2 separate regions of the Homo sapiens genome follow, and region 2 is linked to region 1. The links come from fine-mapping of genetic effects on gene expression. A gene starts in region 1. The other region holds a variant in brackets. All regions are shown on one strand. Distances are from middle to middle. Region 1 holds the start of C5orf22 (chromosome 5 open reading frame 22). Region 2 has its middle 35 kb from the start of C5orf22.

Evidence for each region. PIP is the estimated chance that this variant, and not a neighbour inherited with it, causes the effect.
Region 2: its variant is the best candidate, but not a certain one, in a credible set for the expression of C5orf22 in whole blood (TOPMed, PIP 0.71).

Annotation. Positions count from the first base shown.
Region 1 is chr5:31,530,631-31,533,544 of GRCh38, reverse strand. It overlaps C5orf22 (chromosome 5 open reading frame 22), which reads right to left and starts at 1,244. Exons shown (of 9, transcript NM_018356.3): 1 at 1,072-1,244. The coding sequence starts at 1,152. It overlaps DROSHA (drosha ribonuclease III), which reads left to right and starts at 1,452. Exons shown (of 36, transcript NM_001382508.1): 1 at 1,452-1,555; 2 at 2,020-2,095; 3 at 2,621-2,747. RefSeq lists enhancers at 1,023-1,072, 1,123-1,172, 1,203-1,372.
Region 2 is chr5:31,565,889-31,568,802 of GRCh38, reverse strand. No RefSeq gene overlaps it. Among named protein-coding and RNA genes, the nearest start is that of C5orf22, 35 kb to the right of the region's middle. The variant T/C (reference allele first, on the strand shown) is at 1,346.

The DNA.
Region 1 (2,914 bases):
ACTATATCCAGGTCCTGAGAAACCTATCTTCCTCTCCTATTAGCTGTCACCAACAGTAAATCCCTCTTCTTTTTTAACGTCCAGAGAACTGCCTCCCATCCCAAGCCTACTGATGCTACTTTAAAACATATTTATTAGATCCATGGGCCTCCTTTGTTGACTTGGAAAAGTCTAGATTAAGACACCAATTTGGCTACTGTAAATCAGCACGGCCATAAACATGGAAACCCCTTTTAGTGTTTATCTATGCAGGGCACCGTGTTAAATTTTTTTTTTTTTTTACGCAATATGGGCCGTGCGCAGTAGCTCACGCCTGCAATCCCAGCACTTTGGGAGGCCGGCGGGGGCCGATCACGTGAGGTCAGACTTTCAGACCATCCTGGCTAACGTGGCGAAGCCCCGTCTCTACTAAAAATACAAAAATTAGCTGGGTACGGTGATGCGTGCCTGTGATCCCAGCTACTCAGGAGGCTGAGACAGAAGAATCGCTCGAACCCAGGAGGCGGAGGTTGCAGTGAGCCGAGATCGCGCCACTGCACTCCAGTCTGGGTAACAGAGAGAGACTCCGTCTCAAAAAAGAAAAAAAAAAGATTTTTAAACACAGTATGCACACAATAATACTCCTAAGAGCCCTGTGAGTCCTACGATTACTGTCCCCATTTCAGATCAGAGCCCACGTTCCAAGCATAAAGCCTCCCATCTAAACAGCAGGGCTGTGGTGGCGATTCCAGGAGATACTTGGAAGCCAGAGTTAACTGCAGGTTAAGAACACAGGGCTCTGCAGCCAGACTGTCCGGTTTCGAATCCCGATGCCACCTTTTGTTTGGTTCTGGGATTTGGGGGCAAACCGAGGTAAATAAGTTGCCCCGACTCGTAGGAAGCGCCCATAAATGTCAGTTCTCATTCTTCCTAGTTAGCTGTTTTGGGGTCCTCTCCACAGCAACGGAATAGGGCAGTTTAACTCTGGTTAACTCTCTGGCCTCCGATGCTAAGGTTGCGCCCTCTGCTTGGCCCTCTGAGCGTCAGGGCTTCCGCTGATTCTGCCCCAGAGCCCTGTTGCCGTCCGCTCACCTCCTGATGATCCTCCACCACCCACACTGGGAGCTTGGGGTAACGCCGGAGACCAGCGCGCCCTCCCGCGGAGTCACTCATGTTTTTGCGCCCGTCAGTTTTGCAGTAAAGCGGTGGCAGCTGGAGAAGACCCGGGAAAGCCGGCGCCTCATCCCGGCCAGCTCTCTCCGGGCGGAAGCGCTCCCTCACCCGGTTGCGTTTTCGGATTGGAGGACGTAGGGGGAGGGGGCGCGGGCTCCAAAGGGTCTTTTGCTGACGATTGGTCTAGACGTCCATCGCTTTCGTTGACGCGCCAATCACCGCGCACAAGGCCCTGCGGTGGGCTGAAGAGTTTTCCCTCCCTTGGCCCAGCTTTCTCAGGTTTGCTTTTTAATTCCCTCGGTTTCCTGTTCCGGAGGCGCGGGCGGTGCCACTGTCTTGGTACCTGCGGTAGTAGCCTGGCTTTGCTCTGACGGCGATCTCGCGGCCCGAGAGCCTTTTATAGGTAAAAGGGGTACCTTGCAAGTGTTAGAAGAGAGTTTCCGAGTGTCAGGATTTAAACGGGGCTGGAGTCTCCGGGGCTGGGGTGAAAAGCGTCCGGGAATTGGGGTCGGGCAGCCCCACTTCAGATCTGCAGCTAAGGGCAAAAGAGCGACGCTAGGCCTGGATCCCGCAAATAAGTGGAAGTGAAAAAGGAGACCTTTCATTCATTTGTGGAGCACACACTATGGTCCAGGCCTGGGGCCGCCCGGCTCTCGGAGGGGAGTGAGATCCTGAGCTCAGCGCCTGCCTCGTGGGGCGTACCGTCTGGCGGGAGATGCAAACAGTAAATGTGCAGTTATGGATCAGGATGAAGGTGACTGCCCTGCAGATCCACCTGGGGAAAGAGGGAGTTCTCAATAAAAATGTAGTCACACTTTAAAATTCTTTTTACATGCACTGACGTTCTGGCCGTGTTAACTATTCAAGACAGCTCCTTCAGTGTCTCTGTTTCCAAACCGCAACCGAGAAGAGACAGACGGAGAAAAGAGAGTTACTTTTCCAGGTGCAGTGAATTCCTTGACTTTTGAATTAAAGTCTGCATCCACAACACAGCCGGACTATGCCTTCAATAGGTCAATTTCATGATTAGTATTTTTAGATTTTCTAACTACTGAAACATCCATGAGGATCTGGCAGTGAATGTTCAGCTCTTGTTACACACTGTACAAGAGTGTTCGTGACCCTGACTTTTGCCCACCTCTAGGTGCGGCACACACCTTTGTGTTCCCCTAAGCCCTGCACATACCTCTTTTTTGTGTGTTTATTGCATTATTTTGTATTTTTAAAACACTTACTTGTACGTGGGTTCTGAGTTCCTTGAATCCTACAGGCTGTGTGTCTTATTATCTCTGAGTCTACAGGGCCTGGGACAGTGCTTCCCATTTATGGGCTCATTAAATATTGCATGACTCAGTGAAAAGGCCTGCTTTCTGTTGCGGAGGTACATGGAAGGGAAATGTACAGTAGCAACATGGAAACATACTATTGGTGAGAGAGTAAACATTTATTGACCACCTACTGTGTGTAGGTTGCTTTTCCCGGGGATGTGAAGGATACAGAAATGACTGTGAATCAACCCATATCATCAAGGAGCTGATAATCTAGTGGAAGAGTTAGACGTGTGCATACTTCACTATGATATGAGGCAGTCTCTGGTAAGTGCTGTAAAAGGATTAAGTATAGACTAAGTCTAGAGGGAATGGGATTACCTAAGGGAATCAGGAAGGGCTTCATAGAGGAGGTGGCATTTAAGATTGATAGATGGATAGAAAATCACTGGGCAGATTCATACGTTGGGAGATTTTTTTTTTTTTTTTTTTTT
Region 2 (2,914 bases), 35 kb before region 1:
CATGCATCAATATGACATTTTAAACAATATTAAACACATGCTTTGATATCTGCCAGGGCAAGTTTCTCCCATTTTTTCCTCCTAAAATTGTCTAAGCTATGCATACACGCATACACTTCTAGCCTTACTTATGAATTCTTGAATTAGCTAGCCAAATTGTATGCTAAAGACTGTTGGGTTATTTTGGGGATTACATTTTACATATCAACTTGCAGAGAGCTGGCTTTTTTTTTTTTTTTTTTTGGACAGTCTCTCTCTTTTGCTTAGGCTGGAGTACAGTGGCATGATCTCTGCTCACTGCAACTTCCACCACCCAGGTTCAAGTGATCCTCCCACCTCAAGCTCTCCAGTAGCTGGGACTACAAGCATGCACCACCACACCCAGCTAATTTTTTTTTTTTTTTTGAGATGGAGTTTCACTCTTGTTGCCCAGGCTGGAGTGCAATGGCATGATCTTGGCTCACTGCAACCTCTGCCACCCAGTTTCAAATGATTCTCTTGCCTCAGCCTCCTGAGTAGCTGGGATTACAGGTGTGTGCCACCATGCCGAGCTAATTTTGTATTTTTATTAGAGATGGGGTTTCACCATGTTGGCCAGGCTGGTCTTGAATTCCTGACCTCAAAGTGATCCACCTGCCTCGGCCTCCCAAAATGCTGGGATCACAGGCGTGAGCCACCACACCCGGCCTAATTTTTGTATTTTTTGTAGAGAAAGGGTCTCACCATGTTACCCAAGCTGGTCTCAAACTCCTGGGCGCAAGTGATCCTTCTGCCTTGGCCTCCCAAAGTGCTGGGATTATAGGCATGAGCCCCTGCACCCAGCTTGGCATGTTAAAATACTGAAATTTATCGTCTATAACCAATAATGTTCTTAATTTTGGATTTCTTCTACATCTCATAAAGTTTACATTTTTCCTTGTAAAGATCTTCTATATTTATTATTTAGGTTCTGTTGTGAATTCTTTTCCATTACATTTTCCATCTATTGCTATTTGTATTAGTCTGTTTTCACACTGCCATGGAGAAATACCTGAGACTGGGTATTTTATAAAAGAAAGAGGTTTAATTGACTCACGGTCTCACATTGTTGGGGAGGCCTTGGGAAACTTACAATCATGGCAGAAAGCAAAGGAGAAGCAGGCACCTTCTTTACAGGATGACAGGACAGAGTGAGTGCTGAGCAAAGGGCACTCTTAAGCCCCTTACCATCAGATCTCATGAGAACTCACTATCATAAGAACAGCATGAGGATAACCACCCCCATGATTCAATTACCTCCTATGACAACTACCTGGGTCCCTCCTATGACACACGGGGATTATGGGAACTACAATTCGAGATGCGA[T/C]TTGGGTGGGGACACAGCCAAACCATATCACTGGTGTATCACAAAACTACTAATTTATGAATGTCCATCTGCTATCTAAGCCACCTTGTTGAACTTTGTTGTTATTTGTAAGTTTTCATCATATTAGTTTCATAATCTATCATGTGGTAGATTAATCATACCCTGGAGCCTCCCCCTCTTATCTCAAATCCCTAGGAATGACAGAAAAGTTATAAGAAAAATAAAATACATCCTTGCCTCCTAGAACACACAAAAAAGAAAAAAAAAGAAAAAGAAAATACATAGTGGCATCCTGTATATACTATTAATCATTTTATATTTTCTCTTCCTCCTGGTGGAATTTTCAATATCAGTACACAGAGAGGAGCCCCCTTCTGTGGTGGTAAGGGTACCACCATATGGATGTCTGATAACTTAACCAGTCCCTGTTGAAAGACCTTCCTCCCCAGTCTTTTACTGTCACAATGAAAATCCTTGTATAAAAGTCTTGCAATTGCCTGATGGGTTCTTCCTGCCTGCTGCACAGACAAATGCAATTCACTGAGACTGTGGTACTGCAGTAAAGAAAGTTTAATGCAAGGCCAATGATATGGTTTGCCTGTGTCTCCACCCAAATCTCATCTTGAATTGTAGTTCCCATAATCCCCACATATCATGGGAGGGACCCAGTGGGAGGTATTGAAACATGGAGGTGATTACCCTCATGCTGTTCTCATGATAGTGAGTGAGTTCTCATGAAATCTGATGGTTTTATAAGGGGCTTTTCCCCTTTTGCTCAGCACTTCTCCATCCTGCTGCCCTGTGAAGAAGGTGCCTTCTCCTCTATCGCCTTCCACCATGGTTGTAAGTTTCCTGAGGCCTTCCCAGCCATGCGGAACTGTGAGCCAATTAAACTTCTTTTCTTTATAAATTACGCAGTCTCAAGTATTTCTTCATAGCAGTGTGAGAATGGACTAATACAGAAGAGAGTAGGGTGCTGCTATAAAGATACTCAAAAATGGGGAAGTGAATTTGGAACTGGGTAACAGGCAGAGGTTGGAACAGTTTGGAGGGCTCAGAAGACAGGAAAATGTGGGTAAGTTTGGAACTTCCTAGACTTGTTGAATGGTTTTGACCAAAATGTTGATAGTGATGTGGACAATGAAGTCCAGGCTGAGGTGGTCTCAGATAGAGATGATGAACTTATTGGGAACTGCAGCAAAGGTGACTCTTGCTATGCTTTGGCAAAGAGACTGGTGGCATTTTGCCCCTACCCTAGAGATCTGTGGAACTTTGAACTTGAGAGAGATAATTTAGGGTATCTGATAGAAGAAATTTCTAAGCAGCAAAACATTCAAGAGGAAACAGAGCATAAAAGTTTGGAAAGTTTGCAGCCTGAAGATGCGATAGAGAAGAAAAACACATTTTCTGGGGAGAAATTCAAGCAGGCTGCAGAAATTTGCATAAGTAATGAGGAGCTGAATGTTAATAGCAAAGACAATGCAGGAAATGTCTCCAGGGCAGGTCAGAGATCTTTGTGGCAGCCCTCTCATCACAGGCCCAGCGGCCTAGGAGGGAAAAATTGTGTTG